Regions from separate parts of the Homo sapiens genome. Here region 1 is linked to region 2. The links come from fine-mapping of genetic effects on gene expression. A gene starts in region 2. The other region holds a variant in brackets. All regions are shown on one strand. Distances are from middle to middle.

The links. PIP is the estimated chance that this variant, and not a neighbour inherited with it, causes the effect.
Region 1: its variant is fine-mapped to the expression of WWC1 in unexposed skin (GTEx, PIP above 0.99). The same link has a PIP of 0.9 or more in esophagus mucosa and sun-exposed skin.

What each region holds. Positions count from the first base shown.
Region 1 is chr5:168,356,815-168,365,141 of GRCh38, forward strand. All of the region lies in intron 1 of WWC1 (WW and C2 domain containing 1), which reads left to right. Among named protein-coding and RNA genes, the nearest start is that of WWC1, 69 kb to the left of the region's middle. RefSeq lists an enhancer at 8,305-8,327. The variant G/C (reference allele first, on the strand shown) is at 4,266.
Region 2 is chr5:168,287,577-168,295,903 of GRCh38, forward strand. WWC1 (WW and C2 domain containing 1) reads left to right here and starts at 4,069. Exons shown (of 23, transcript NM_015238.3): 1 at 4,069-4,695. The coding sequence starts at 4,577. RefSeq lists an enhancer at 2,618-2,697 and silencers at 3,842-4,361, 4,462-4,881.

The sequences.
Region 1 (8,327 bases), 69 kb after region 2:
GTTACCAGCTGGGAATAAGGGAAGCCCATGGAGACGGTTCCTGGTGGAGGAGATGGAGCAGTGGGCCAAGGCTCAGGTGGCTCATATCCAATAATCCTGGCCCTACCTAGGGCCCTGGGAGCCCTGTCAGTTGTGGGAAGTCTCTGAGTGTCATCTGTAAAACAGGGAAATAATCATGATGGTCATGATGCCACTGTTGTGACGGTTATTTGAGTATCAAATAAGGTCAAGAATCCAAAAGCACCTTGAGGACCTTAAATGTTTCTTCAATCACAAGTTTCTCTTTGTTGGGACAAGCAAAATTTGGAAAGTAGAGGGCCTAGCTGTGAACCCTGCTGGGAATTCCAATGAGATCTTTCTTTCTTTGTTCTTTTGTGAGTTCATTTATTCATTCAGTGAACATTCATTTGGTGCCCACTCATAAGATGCTGAGGTTACAACTGTTAATAAGATATTAAGATACTGTCTTTTTCTTCCTCTTTCTCTCTTACACACACACACACACACACACACACACACTTTTTGGGCCAACTGGAAATTCATACATTCTCCCCAGCACTGGAGCTCAAAGCGTCTGCCAACCTGTGGGTTTCTTTTCCGTGTGGTTCACCATCTGGAGTGGCAACCTGCCTTCTGTGTGTGTGTGTGTGTGTGTGTGTGTGTGTGTGTGTGTGTGTGTGCGCGCGCGCACGCATGCACGTGCGTGCATGCCAGGGTATTGTGTTCCCTTTCTGTGCTTGAGAGGCTGAATGAACAAGAGAAGAGCAAAGGCAAAGAGGACAATGCCCAGAAGTCATCCTCGCAGTATGAATGAATAATTCATATTGTATCTGCCTCTTTCTAGGGCTTCCCAAAATAGCTGTTTTAATTGCTTATTTGTTTCACTGCTGACTTTATTCCAGCCGCCTTCAGCTCAGAACACTTCGGTGTTTCATGTTGACTTGCAGGTAGGGCTTCCCTTCAGGGAATAACATTCTATTTATTTTCTTCTTTAAAAAGAAATGATGGGAGAAAAACCCATAAAGCAAGTCATACTTTTCAGAGGCGAAAACTGTTTCTTTTCCACTGTTGTGCAGAGCTCCTTTGTAATCAGTTACTGTAGGCCTCTGTGGTCCTAAAAACCAAAGAAATAGCAGTCGAGTTGCAGACAAGGCGAGCTTCTGGCTAGAGCAGCCTGCTCACTGTGATGTGTTCACTTGGGAATCTGAGTGTGCAAACACTTGGGAATCCACAGACTTGGGACCCTTGCATGTGGTGGGCCATGCTGGCTTGTGGTTTTCCAGACATGTCAGCTGCAGCATCCGGAACAGGTCTCAGGAAGGCCCTGTCTATCTGGGTGGGTGACCTGGGGAAACAGTGTCATGTCTCCCTGGGGCCCTGATAGGACACCTTTGGTAGGCAATGCACAGCTTAGTTTAGAAAAGGCTTCATACAGTGGTCCTGGAGGGATGACTTATTGTATACAATAAGGAGATGTCAGGAGGTGTGTTCAGAGAATGAATGAGGATGGGCAAGGAGAGCTCGGTGAGTGTCAGGGAACCTGAGTGTCCAGAAGGATCCACTCCTCTGGCTGCGTGACCCCAAACACATCCTTGGGACACAGTCATGGAAACTCAGTGCTGAAAGGTCCTGTAGCCATCACTTTGTCATCTCATGGTAGGGATGGGAAAACAGCAGCCCAGGGGCTGGGAAGGTGCCCACAGCCACTCAGTAGTATAGCTGAGGATTGATACCAGTTGGATTTGCCTCTCAACTAGCTGAGTGTCCTTGGATGAACCAGTTAACCTCTCTGTGCCTCAGTTTCTACATCTATAAAATGGAGCTAATAATACTGTGTATAAGATTGTTTTAAATAAGCTAATATGTTGCATTGAATTGACGATTTTCTTTTTTCTTACAACTTTATTGAGGAATTTTTGAAGTCTACTAAATGGTATGTGTTTAAACAATTTTATGAGCTTTGACACGCATATATATATATATATGTACACATACATACATGTATACGTACACATGTAGGAACTCCTCATCATAATCAGTATAACAAACCTTATCTCCAAAACTTTTCTTGTGCCCCTCTGTAATCCTCTCCCTCTAACCCTCCTCCCCAGGCAACCACTGACCTGCTTTCTGCCCCTGTAGTTAATTTGTTTTTTCTAGAATTTCATATAAATGGAATCACACAATATATGGTTTTTGTTGTTGTTGGTGGTGGTGGGGTGTGTGTGTGTGTGTGTGTGTGTGTGTGTGTGTGTGTTCGAGACAGACTCTCACTCTGTCACCCAGGCTGGAGTGCAGTGGCACGATCTGGGTTCACTGCAACCTCTACTTCCTCAGCTCCAAGGATCCTCTCACCTCCACCTCCCAAGTAGCTGGGACTACAGGTACGCGCCACCATGTCTGGCTAATTTTTTTGTATTGGAGAGACAGGGTTCCACCATGTTGCCCGGGCTAGTGTTGCACTCCTGAGCTCAGGTGATCCACCCACCTCAACGTCCCCAAGTGCTGGGATTAGAGGCGTGAGCCACCACGTCTGGCCTATACACTATAGAGTTTTTTACCTAATATGTGTCTGAAATTAATCTTCATTACTGCATATTTTAATAGTTTATTCCTTTTTATTGCTGAGTAGTATTCTGTTGTTTGGCTGTACCACAGTTGTCTATCCATTTACCTATTGATGGACATATGGATTGTTTCTAGCTTGGGGTTTTTATAAATAAAGATAATATTGATTTTAAGAAGCACCATTATTGTATGTGCCATAAGAAAGGGAAATTGTGCCAATTAAACTATGTCCCAATGTTTTTATGTAATTAGAATGCTTATTTTATATTTGTTGAAATACATTTTTCAAGGTTAGTTTTTTTTGTTTTTTCTTTTTTAACTCACATATCACTTGTATGTGTAAAAAACCCACAAAGGAATATATGAGAAAAATAAAACTCTGGTATTCCTACAGTGTCTTCCCATTCAGAATCCAGTTCTTCGGAGTAGCTTTTTAGCTGAGTTATTAATGTCTGTGCTTTTAATATTGTCCTTTGTGCCCTTAAGAGTGTTAGTCATACAGCCTTGTTATAAAGACCCACAAAAAGGGACTCAAAGCTTGGCAATTCTGTAGAGGTAGCCAGCTTAAGAGTCCTGCTTTGGGAATGTTGCTAAACAGGTCTGTTGCATACCTTCTCCACACCTTTCCACAACCATTTGGTTCCTAGGGGTTAAAAGTGCTTACAACTTTATTGAGGAATTTTTGAATTCCTCAATGTCTTGTCTGTGGGATTTTTATCCCAAGCCTGTAGCACCCGTTCCACCAGTGGCAGTGCTGATGCCTTTGATATATGTGCACACACAGGCAGTGACAGCTCCATCAGGACTGCAGCCTAGGTGATATCAGTTGTAAGATGTCAGTAGTAGTAGCATACATCAGAGTTTCAGAAAATGCTGAATGTGTTTAAAAATGTGCATCTTTTGGTGAAATAGGGTCTATGTAAGGGACATTGGATAGTGCCTGGCATTTTGCAAATACTCAATGAAATTTTGCTTTTATTATTATTATTGCTATTACTATTAAGCCTCAGTTTCCTGTTGGTGAAATTGGGGTGATTGTACCTGCCTCACAGAAATATTGTTAGAATAAAGGAAGCGATCTATTTTACATGGAGCATATGGTCCTGTGCCTAGTGCTTCACTGGCCTTAAGTGGAAGCTGCCCTGACCTTTGGGACAGGTTGGCCAGGTATTAGACTAAAGCTGCAGAGGGTGCCTTAGGGGTGTTAAATTCTAGCTTCCTCTGTTTTGCAGGTGGGAAAGACCAAGAGAAAGGGTTAAGGTCCAGCAACAGGAGTGCCTTGCCCAAGGGCATCGTCAGGCTTCAAACCCAGATCTCATCATTCTTCTTCCAGTGCTCTGTCTAAACCATGCAGTCTTGGGAGGGGCCCCAAGTCAGACAGGATCTCAGAAAAGTCTTCACGGTCAATTCCATTTCTAGAAGGACCAGCTCCTCAAGCTGTGTGGTAAGGGTCAGAGCTCAAGGAGCAGAAGATTCTGGAATGGCCAAATTCCAGGACAGGGTGAGCTGCTGCCTCTGCAGTTACTGCTGATGAGGCTTCTAGACAGCCCAGCACCTGGGAAGAGCCCTTGGGAACCCAGCTCATGAGGCTGGAAGGAATAAGGCTGGGAGTTGAGTGTCCCCAGAGTCCTAAATACAGAAAGGAGTAGGGCTGCAGGCCTGCCTGGGGTTGTGTGCCAGGTGCTGTGTTGAGTCTT[G/C]TCCGTGCATGAATGAATGCAAGAACCTGGGAAGCAGGTTTTCTTGTCTGCTCTATACCTGCAGGAAAACTGAGGCTCAGACCTGGGGGAAGGAATGGACTGAGATTACACAGCTAGGAAGGATGGAACTGGGAGTCCTCTCTGGTTCTGTTGGCTTTTTCTTTAGGGCACAGAGCTTCCATAGCCTAACTCATAATTCAGGAATGAGGATGAAGCTGGGGTTGAGCAGGGTGAGGAGCAAAAAGATATTCCAGGGTCTTCATTCTACTGTGGTGTGGGGCTTTTAGGAAATTACCTTCCAAGTAGGTAATGAGAAAAATGAAGAGCCCACCTCCCAACCTCGTCTCTCCATGAATGGGAGCTTCATAGTTCTCCATCTTGGTTCCTACCCAATGATCAGTCTCATTCGGTATAATAGGGTTAGTTAGCCTGGGAAAATGCTATCAATACCTATTTCTTGGAGGCTGTTCAGATGCTTATTGAATTTCAAATGGAGCCAAGCCCAGCACCAAGCTGATTTGATCTCCTGGCATTATGTGATGCAGGGCTGGAGTTGGTCCCCAGGTCCCCTGGGTCCTTGGGTGGCTCCAGGCAAGTCTTTTATCTCTGTCCCTCAGTTTCCTCATTGGTAAAGAAAGGGAGTTGTTTTGTTGGGTTTCTTTTAATTTTAACATTCTCTACGTTGGGGGCCTCATTTGGGCAGCAGTGTGAAAAATAAATCACTGGGTGCGGTGGCTCACGCCTGTAATCCCAGCACTTTGGGAGGCTGAAGTAGGTGGATCACATGAGGTCAGGAGTTTGAGACCAGCCTGGCCAACATGGTGAAACCCCATCTCTACTAAAAATAGAAAAAATTAGCCGGGCATGGTGGCAGGCGCCTGTGGTCCCAGCTACTTGGGAGGCTGAGGCAGGAGAATCGCTTGAACCCGGGAGGCAGAGGTTGCAGTGAGCCTAGACCGTGCCAATGCTCTCCAGCCTGGGCAACAAGAGTGAAACTCCATCTCAAAAGATAAATAAATAAATAAATGAAAAACGAATCACTCACATTTATCAAGCACTCACTGTGTACTCATGTGCTGTTTCATGCATTATCTCATGTAAGCTTCAAGGAGCACTGTGGGGCAGGTCTGAATGGTACCTGCCTGAAAGGGCTGTTGTGAAGGCCAGCTGAGTAAATATATAAATACATTAACTGCTTGGAACAGTTGCTGGTGCATAGTGAGTGCTCAGTATATGTGTTCTTATTTTTCCTGTTTTGCAAATGTGACAACTGAGCCACATAGAGTTTACATATCTTGTCCAAGGTCACACAGCTAGAAAATGACAGAGCCTGGATTCAAAGCCAGTGAGTCTGGCTCCAGAGCCCTCTGCTCTTAACCAAGAGGCAGGAGTGACACATTAGAAAGCAATGGGGACAAAGTGCATCCAGACAGTGCCTGTCCCCAAAGGTGTGCTAAGTCCGTTTTTAAAATATAGCACTGTAGTAGATCAACAAACATATCTTCAGGCTGAATTTGGCCCTCAGGTTGTCCGTTGGCTTTACCTACTCTAATCCATGATTTGGTTCTCAGAACTGAAATCTTAAACCCAACAGGCAGCACACAGAGGGGATTAGCAGCCTGGATTCACCCCATGTCAGTGAGTGGGAACAGATAAGCATAGAGACTCAAGATGGAGGTGAAGGAAGGGGATGGACCCAAAGGGCACAGGTGTGTGATCTCACCAACCCAGCAGGGCAGAGGGAAGACAGAATCCAAGATTTGGCAGTGGGGAGGTGAGCCACTGGTTTGTGGGGGCCTAGTCTGAAGGTAGGGAGGGTTTGGGGTGGAGGAACCGTCTGGAATCTCCCCTCCAGCCCTCCCTCCTCTTCTTTTTTCTATAAAAGAATTTTAGGATGGGAATAACTAGGCCAAGAAAACTTCTGGGTAAGCCAGCCCAAACAGAGTAGGGAAACAAGGAGATCTAAGGGTGGAAAAGCCAGAATTTTGAGACAGGTGTTCGGAGGGTAGAGAACAAGAGGAAGGGAAGTGTTTACGAGAAGAAGAACTTGGGAATTCCAGGTATAAATGCCTCCTCCTTCAGAGAGCAGATTTTGAGAACCAAATCCAATTCAGCTACTGTCTCCTACCTTCTCCCATTTAACTTTCTAAAAAGAGAGAGGAAGCCAGGTGTGGTGGCTCACACCTGTAATCCCAGAATTTTGGGAGGCCGAGGCAGGAGGATCACTTGAGGTCAGGAGTTTGAGACCAGACTGACAAACATGGGGAAATCCCGCCTCTACTAAAAGTACAAAAATTAGCCCGGCATGGTGGCGGGCACCTGTAGTCCCAGCTACTCAGGAGGCTGAGGCAGGAAAATCACTTGAACCCTGGGAGGTAGAGATTGCAGTGAGCTTAGATCACGCCACTGTACTCCAGCCTGGGTGACAGAGCCAGACTCTGTCTCAAAAAAAAAAAAAAAAAAAAAAAGATGGTTTAAGCAGTCCCAGCTCCTCCAGGAAGGGAGGTGATAGAATACAGTGCAAGGTTTATTAGCTGTGCAAGCCAGGACAATTATTTTGCTTCAGTTTCCCCATCATGAAAATCGGGGTATAAAACCTAACTCATCCTAACAGCCAATGTAGATTGAACCCTGAATGCCATGTGGTCAGCACAGCCCATTTTAACGCAGCGGTGACTTTGAGCACCCCCATCTTATGGATGAGGAAACAAAGCCACACAGGTTAGAGTTCATGCCCAAGGGGACAGAGCTAATGAGTGACAGTGCCTGCATTGGGACCCAGATGGCTGACTCCAGACTTGTGAGTTTTAACCACCACCGTGTATCTCTTAGGGTGAAGACTGATAATGGTGGGTGTGGTGATGGTGGTGATGATAGCTCACGTGTTAAGGATTTGAGATAAAGGGTGATGTGATTCTTCACAACGCGCAGAACTCTCTGATTATGTTTGCAACCCACATTTATCAAGGGCTTGTCTTGTGCCAGTCCCGGCACTAGATACTGTATAGGTTATCTCATTTAATCCCCACAACACCCTTATGAGAGTGGGCCTTCCTGTGTAAGTTTCACAGAGAAGAAAACTCCTCTCAAGCAGGTTACATAACCCACCTACAGTTCTGGAAGAGGTGGAGCCTGGGTTTCAGCCTCGCATCCCATTCCTGAGCCTTTGTGGGTAACATCTACCCTGCCTCCTCCTTAACCATGGAGCTGACCACAGCTCTTTCCTCCTCCCCTCCCCAGCCCTCCCTGACTACACCCCATTGCTGCATTCTCTCCCTGCCCATGGCCCGTTGGCCTTTCGCGTCTATACTGCTGACGTAGCACCTTATTAAATATCCCTGCATCCTCTAATTACCTGTGGCTCAGGCCGCGGGTAGCGTTACAGCCACATACACTCCCATGGAATGTTGTGGGGATGACTCCCTGCCTGTTTGGAGTGTGAGTCTTGTTCCCCGGCCAGACCCTCTGCCCCTGGAAGCAGAAACATGGCTTCTTCAAGCGTCTGAGCCCTCGTAGTGCCTAGCATGGGCCTGGAGTGCCATACTCACTTGATAAATGCTTGTTGCTTGGTGGATTGATTGAAATGAGGGTGGAAGGATGAGAGTGGAGGGTGAGGCAGAGAGTGTCTCTGGGTCACCCTCCAGCTCAACACAAGGGCAGTGGTCAGAGGAATAATCCAAAGTGCATACCCAGGCCCCAGAGCCGCCAAAGCTGACCTCCGCCTCCACTTCACCTGAATAGCATGGATCTCTCTGAAATGGCCCTCTTGATTTGCTTCTGGCTGGGGTGCATCTCGCCCTCTAGACTGTAAGGGCAGGGCCCTATCTGTCTCTTTCCTCTGTAGCTGGTGTTAACGAAGGCTCTGCTGTGTGTCATGTGCTCAGCTCTCCTAACAAACTTGAGAGATGGTTATTTTTATCATGCCCAGATTTGTTAGACAATGAGTAAAAGAGTCTGAACCAAACTGAATTAAAGGAAGAAGGACTTCAAACGTTGCCTTTCTTCCTGTTCATTCTGGCCTCCCCGGAGCTAAAGGTGAAGGGACTGCTTAGAAATGGTGTT
Region 2 (8,327 bases):
TCAGTTTGCTCATCTATGAAATGGAACCAGCAGGAACTAGGGCAGTAAATCATTATTCACACAAACTCCATTTCTCTGTTTGTAAAATGAGTAGGCTGTGCAAGACTTGTTTCAGTTGATTTCCCAGCACTGAATTAAGCACGGAGGACCGAGAGGTAAATAAAAAACCATCTCTTCTGCCTCGGCTCTCGTGTTACCAAGGTTTCTTCCACCCTCATTTTCTCTGGCTTAGGACGTGTTTTCCCATCATTGGAAAAAAAGAGTCCACAGTACATTTATGAACCTCAAATAATGCATGACTCAAGAAAGGGGACATTATTGGCTCCATCATAGAACATAACTGTGCATTCCCCAGGATGTGTGGGAGGGACGGCATGAGGTAGGGAGGTAGAGTCATGGAGCAGGAAGCAAAATCTCAGCAGAGGTTCTCAAAGCCTCAGTTTCCCCTGAAGAATGCAGATGCGAACAGGAAACTGGACTTGCTAACATATCTGTTCCTTTGTTTTATATTTAATTTCTCCTCTTTACCATCTTCATGGAATATGTGACTCTGGCTCTCTGAAACACTCTAAAACACGTGTGGATAACGGCCTTTCTTCCCTGCAGTTGCAGTGGAGAAAAGGGTTCAAGTGCGCATCGTTTTTAAAAACAAGACAGCCTGTCTCAGGCTCAGGTGATTCCTCTGGGCCACCGGGATGTGGCCTTTGTCATTAGAAAGGCTTGGCCTGTGGTCACTTCTGCACTGCCCAACACTGCCCAAGCCTGTCTCCTTCAACTCCACACGCGGGCAGCCAGACGCAGCCCCAGGAGGGTGGCCAGGAGAGGGCTGGGCTTCTTGTCTTCAGTTCGGATTCCTGCAGTTCAGTCACCTGTAGAGTAACGTCCAATTCAGCCTATCATGTGGCTGAGCCGGTTTTACCTTTAATCTCTTTCACGTTTGCCCTCAGCCTCGCAGAATGTCCGGGATGATTCACGCGCCATCACATGGGGCAGGCAGTCATCTGTTTTATTACCTCACCCTGCTTGCCGCTTCTGCGAGATAACCTGGGATTCTTTCGTTGGGGGTGGATGGGAGGTAAAAAGAGCGAACAGACCTAGGCCTTAATTCAGGAGTCAATTCCTGCTCTGGTCTCTCTTTCTTGCTTCCCAGGCCAGGTCAAAAGGTCCAAAGAAGCAAGCCATTTGGAAAATGCCAGGGTTTGGGTGGCTGGACTAAAACGAAAGTGGGACTTGGCAGTCTAAAAGGTGTTTTCTCTTCACAATCAATGCCAACCAGTAAAAAGGCTTGGTTGAAAAATAAGGCCAAAAAAAAAAAAATCAGCAATTAGGAGGACTGTTGCAAGCAAGCAGGCATAATTTTCAGAAGGGGAAAGGACGTGGATTTGTGTTTTGAACAGAAAATACTTCAAATGGTCCACATTTCATAGAGGTGTGTCTGCTGCCAGGCACGGTGCTCCGAATGCACCGCACCACAGCCCCTGAGATGAAGGCGTGCTGCTGAGTGCCAAGCCCTCACATTTCTCCTCCTGCTTTGCCCTAACCACAAGCCCAAAGGAGTCCATATTGTTATGTGATTTTTTTTCAAATCAAAGACTGAGACTTCAGTGAAGCAAGCTGCCCAAGGTCACACAGCTAGAAAACCGGGTGGGCTTGGGACCCAAACAGCCTGATTCTAGAGCTCTTGCTTCTCAACCAAAAAACTATGAAGCAAACATCAACAGAGATGAACATTTGTCAGTATCAGTCATGTTCCACATCCCAACCATGGGGAAGTTCTGAGGCTGCAGAGTGATTTAAAAAAGAAAGAAAGTCTCCAATCTGGGTGACAGAGCGAGACTCCGTCTCAAAAATAAAAAGAAAGAAAGAAAGAAAGTCAGCCAGGCAAGGTGGCTCATGTCTGTAAGCCCAGCACTTTGGGAGGCTGAGGTGGGCGGATCACCTGAGGTCAGGAGTTCGAGACCAGCCTGGCCAATATGGTGAAACTCCAGCTCTACTGAAAAATACAAAAATTAGCTGGGCGTGGTGGCGCAGGCCTGTAATCCCAGCTACTCTGGAAGCTGAGGCAGGAGAATTGCTTGAATCTGGGAGGCAGAGGTTGTAGTGAGCCGAGATCATGCCACTGCACTCCAGCCTGGGGGATGGGGGGAGACTCCATCTCAAAAAAAGAAAAAAAGAAAGTATAGGTTAATAACTGAGAACACTGCACTAGAGTCAGACCTAGTCTGTCTTATGAGCTCTGTATCCCAGGCCAACAACAAAGCATCTTGGAGCCTCATCTGTAAAATGGGTATAATAAATAGACTTTCCTATGCCAGAGGGTTGTTATGAAGATTGAGATCATGTATTCAAAGAACCTAGCACCAGGTTGGCTTTGCTTTGGGGCTACTGCTCTAATCAATAGTGGGTTTTTATGTAGTAAAGGCTTGACCCAAACAGAGGAAGTGTAGAGGGCTGTGGGAATTCCCCCATAAAGGAATGGGGAATTCCAACTTTTGGGTGTTGAGGGCCAGTCTGAGGCTGGTGTCCCTGGACTCTGGTGCCTGGTATTTATGGAATGAAGGAGGGCCAAGCACTGAGCCCCGAGGCCTGGCCTCAGGGAAGGAATTAACTATGAAGAAGGCATTTGGAGGCGAGGCTCACTCTGGTGGGTCTTTTCTGTCAAGAGGAGATGAGACCACAAACATGATTCCCTCTCTGGCTCAGCAACACCCTGGTCCATACAGCACAGGGTGCTGGTTCTTCTGGAAGACCGTGGGGCTCAGGCAAGAGAAGACACCCAACTGGGCTTCATTCGACCAGTCCAGCTTCCTGCCATATGCCGAGGGCAAAAAAGGGTTAAATTCCCACTCAGTACACAGATGTAAGAGGAGATGGGGAAGTGAACAGCCAGTTGATCATTCACTCAATCATGCTAGCTTGCTTTTTGTATTTAATGCTACATTTTAAATTTATTTATTTATTTATTTGAGACAGAGTCTCGCTTTGTTGCCCAGGCTGGAGTGCAGTGGTGCGATCTTGGCTCACTGCAACCTCCACCTCCCAGGTTGAAGTGATTCTCATGCCTCAGCCTCCCGAGTAGCTGGGACTACGGGCGTGCACCACCACGCCCAGCTAATTTATTATTATTATTTTTTAGTAGAGATGGGGTTCACTATGTTGGCCAGGCTGGTCTGAAATCCTGACCTCAGGTAATCTGTCTGCCTCACCCTCCCAAAGTGCTGGGATTACAGGCGTGAGCCACCGCACCCACTAATTCTACATTTTTAATTTCTCAAGAAACATTGTGTCTCTGATTGTTTTATTCTCTTGAACATTTTTCAAGATGGAATTTTGCTTTGCTTACTTTCTTCTTTTTCATAGCCCCACTTCTCCCAAATCCATAACACACCTACCTCAAAGTATCACAGGAAAGAAAGCCTGTGAAGCTGCTAGCCACAGCCTGTCACAAGTAAGTCCTCAATTTAGCTAACAATAACAATGGCATTACTATTACTTTTACAAAGTGTTTTCCCTGACACCCTCTGGAAGTCCTCCCAGGAAAGCGGATCCACAGCGCTCCTAATTTTAGGGACCCTGAGGGGAGCCAGCTACATTTCCAAATGGTGGGGAAGGGTGGAGGGTGGGCGAAACGTCGTAGGGAGAGTTGAATAGAAGGAGACAGATGGTGCCTGTGTTGGGGGAAGGGACCAGAGATCCTGGAAAACTTATGTTTCCCAATTCGCAAGAATGTTTCCATTTAACCACTTCTTGCCTGACTCCTGATTCTACACCACAGAAAAGCAGGGAGTTTTTAAGATTTGGGGCCACCTGTGCCGAGAGCCTGGCTACTCCGGGTGGAGAGAGACAGGAGCGTTTTAAGTACAGGCAGAGCGGTTTTTGGCCCAGCCCCCTAGGTCTGGGACGCAGGTGAGGGGCGGTCTCTCCTTCCCCTGGCAGGGGCAGCGTAAGGGTGGCCGGCGGCTGGGACTGTCCCACGAGGGGGCGCGTCTCGGGCCCTAGGACCCGCCCTCGAGGCGCTGCGCGCGGGGAGGGGACCCGGGAACCCAGGCGCCCGGCGCTCCGCCTCCCGTTTCCGGGGCAGCGCGGTTACCTGCACCGCCCGAGCCGCACCTGGCGGAGGCAGAAGTCACAAACCCGGCGAGCTCAGAGCGGTGGAGCGGAGAGGAGGGACGGCACCCGGCTGCAGGGAGGAGGGAGGCGGCAGCGGCAGCGGCGGCGTGGAGGGCGCAGCGCGCCGCGCGGCGGAGGAGGGCAGACGGCGGCGGCGGCGGCGCTCGGCTCGCTCTGCCCGGCCGGCTGGGCGCGCACCCGGGCTCGCACCGCGCCGCTGCGGACGCACATGGCAGCGTGAGAGGCCGGCGGCGGGAGGAGCGGGCGGCGCCGGGTCGGGGCTGCAGGGCCGCATGGACAGCGGCGCCACCCCGGCCGGCCCCTACTAGGGCCCCCCATCTGCGGGCGCCACCCCCCGGATCATGGTGCCTCGGCGGCCGCCCGGGCTAAGAGCGGCCGGCTGGAGCCGCTGAGCCCCCGCTGCGGCCGGGAGCTGCATGGGGGAGCGCCGGCAGCGCTTGGGAAGATGCCCCGGCCGGAGCTGCCCCTGCCGGAGGGCTGGGAGGAGGCGCGCGACTTCGACGGCAAGGTCTACTACATAGACCACACGAACCGCACCACCAGCTGGATCGACCCGCGGGACAGGTAGGACCCTGGAACCCTCCTCCGTGCCCCCACACCCCCGCCTGGGCCCCCACCTGCCCCTGGAGCCGCCGGCCGGGACTGGGAGGGGGCAGGGGAGCTCTGCGTGCCTCTTGAGCTCTCTTCAGTTCGCCACCCCCTGCTCCCCCCAACCTTCTGGAGCGCTGCTCCCGCCTCAGTGGGCCACCGAGAGGAGGCGCCTGCCGGGGAGCTGGCCCAGGCTGCCCCACCGCCATCCCCAGTTGGAGGACTTAGGCCCCAGCCGGCACCTGCCCGGAGTTTTGACCTTAAGCTCTAGCCCCGCCCGCCCCCTTTAGGAAGAGAGGTCGGGCGGGGGCGGGGGTTGGGGGAGCGACCTAGCCGGGTGAAGCCGGGTCTTCCCGGGGAGGCTTCCACCCAGCGTGGGGGGTGGGCGGATGGGGATGGGGAAGTGTCCGGTTAGAGGGGGTGGTCAAGACCCCAGGATTCCGTGGGAGACCACTGGAGAGAGGGCACTCGGCGCAGAGGAAGGCAACCTGAGGTGTGCTTTTTGACAGGTGCCTTGGAAGCTGCTGAGAACAGCACAGGGGCAGCCAGGGGGCCCTGGAACCCGAGGGTGGGGAGGAAGTGAAGAAGCGGGGGAGGGCAGATGAGGGAGACTGGTTATCCAGGAATCTGGCAGCAACTTGGAAGCTGTTAGGATGGAGATGGAGGTGAGAGGCCTCCCGGAAAGCCTTGCCCCTCGCCTCTTTCTCCTCTCTTTCTTCCCTGATCGGGGAAGGGGGCGGCGAGGCTCCTCAGCCCTGCACCAGCGGGACCTGACCTTGGTGGGTACCAGGCCGCTGTAGGTTGAGATAATGTGCAGAGGCAGATGGAGCCTGAGATAGCTCGGTGTGGCTCTTACCTCTCCAGACTTTCTCCTGGTTGTTTGGCATTTCTTTGCTCACATGCTGCACACACACACATACATTCACCCTCTCCATGTATGTCCTAGAGTCCCCGGACCACGATGTTGTTGACACGGTCTGTGGGCAGAGTGTCTTGGGGAATGCGGACTTTAAACCTTGTCTGTGACCTTGGGGGTCAGGTCCCTGTAAAGCAACCAAGGTGAATTTCTTGGACTCTTCATCTTGTGTGGTGGGGGTGGAGGTGTCCCAGAAGTGTATGTAGCAAGATGTGGGTCAAAAAAAGAATATAAGCGGAAAGAAAATGAGAGTTGAGATTCTCGGTAGTTTCTGGGAGCACTTACTTTCATTCATTCATTCATTCGTTCATTCAGCGCTTCCTGGATGCCTCCTCTACACTCAGCACCATGCTGAATGTCTCATGAATGTAATCTGGAAGGTAAATATTTAGTGCTAGAGAGCATCTCTTAGGCAAGCTGCTTCAACCTCTGAGCCTCAGTTTCCCTGTTTGTCAGATGGGGGAGCCCACCATTTCCCTGAATTTAAAAAGTTTGCTTGGAAGGGAATATTGGGATGCTTAAAACTTGGAAGGGACGTACATCAGCGCCCAACTCCCATTTGAAACATAAGAGAAAATTTGAAGCCCAGAGGTGTGATTTGCTCAAGTATTTTGATTTTTCTGCCATTCTGCGTACCAGTTCTTCACCAGCTCTGAAGTTCTAACCTGCAAACTTGTCACCCTGACACACTGCTTCCCCACCCTTACTCGGGTCAGTTGCCAGCTCTGCTACTGTGTTGGTGAACTTGGCAGCACCTTTTCTCTTGTCCTTTTCTCAGAACAGACACAAGTTCAAACATATGTGACCTGCCCCAATTTAGGTCCCTGTAGTTTACGGAGGCCTGTGTGCTGTTAGCAGGTGGACGTCCTGTTGGAGGGAAAGGACCGCCCCTGCCAACACTGATAATCATGCATCTGGGGACTTCTAATACAGCAATAGGAGGCCCCTCTCAACAGTAATTCTTTACCCTTGGAAAAGGGTAAGTAAGTAGCTTCTATGAAGAACTGATTGGCTGGAGCACAATCTCCCAAATTTTAGTGTTACATGGACCACCTCCATGATTTTTTTTTGCTATATCCACCTGTGCTATTGCTTACTTACTCCTTGACTTTAGATCAACTCACTTTAAAAATATGTGTACCATTTTCACAAATGGGAAACTAGTTATATCTATTGTCATACAGGGGAAACAAAAAAGATAGGCAAACAAAAAAAACAAAAAACCAGGGTTAGTATATTTTAGCTAGGTACTGTGGCCAGCCTAAGGCCACAGCACCTCACCTGCCCAGCCTTTGTTTTTAAGCAGATTGGCAAGCCATGGAGAGGCGGCAGAAACATAGTGGCACTTAGGTGAGCAGCTCACCTTCTTCATCTTGTGTCATTGGTTTTTTTGTTTGCTTTTGGTTTTTTTGTTTATTTGTTTTTGTTTTTTGGAGACAGAGTCTCGCTCTGTCGCCCAGGCTGGAGTCCAGTGGTGCGATCTTGGCTCACTGCAAGTCTGCCTCCTGGGTTCAAGCGATTCTCCTGCCTCAACCTCCCGAGTAGCTGGGACTACAGGTGCACGCCACCACATCCAGCCAATTTTTTGTATTTTAGTAGAGATGGGGTTTCACTGTGTTGCCCAGGCTAGTCTTGAACTCCTGAGCTCAGGCAATCCGCCCACCTCAGCCTCCCAAAGTGCTAGGATTACAGGCGTGAGCCACCACGCTTGGCCTTGGGTCACTGGTTTATAAACTTCATCTCTGTACCTCCTTGTCATCCCACCTGGACTGGGGTGGTATTGGGCCCCTGAACTTGGGGTCCTGAGGGGGTCTCATGTCAACTCTGGGGGTCACTATTGTGGTCCAGCTTTGTATGTTTTGGAAAAGTGCTAATTGGAGGATAGCCACTTGTGGTTTTCTGGAATTTCCCTCCGGCATACCCCATTTTTGCCTTTTAGTTCTGTCTGTGTGGCCTTGGGCAAATCACTTGACCTCTCTGAGGTTTGAGTGCTTGAGAAGTGGGTTGGTTAGATGGTCTTCAAGGGCCTGCCAGCTCTTAAATATTATTTCAAACCCTTCTGCCGCTCTTACCTCTCCAGACTCCATGAGAGGAGAAGGGGGAACAGGGATGGGCTATGAGAAAAAGGAAGAAGAAATTTAACAAAGCTGAAAAGAGCCAAACTTATTCCGGGGGGTGGTGGGTTGGGGAGAAAAAATTCTGCCAAGGTAGTTATATCCCTGCAATTAATTAATGCTGTGAGACAAAAAATTGCACTAAAAATTTCTACTCCGTGTGTGTGTGTGTGTGTGTGTGTGTGTGTGTGTGTTTATTTGCCTTGGATTTTTCCTTACCTGAATCATGGAGATGCCCACCCATTCCCCTGAATTTAAAAGAAGTAAGTCAAATGGTCCTTCAGTCAGAAAAGTGATTTCTTAGCCACCAAGGACAAAATAGCGTCTCTGGTTACCAACCCTAAAGAATGTCTTGGCACATTCCTCCCTCTGGGGCTGAGCTGTTTTGTGTGCTGGCCGGCCAGGAGCTGCTGGGGGTAGGGAATCCAGTTTTCAGCTTCCCCTTTCACCAGGGGGTTGGAAGAGCAGCCAAGCAGCCAGCCTTGCCAACTCTCTCCCCTTCTCACCCAGGGGAAGACTGGGAGGCCGAAATTCCTGAGGATGGTTGTCCCAACAACCGGAGAGGGTCCAGTGGGCAG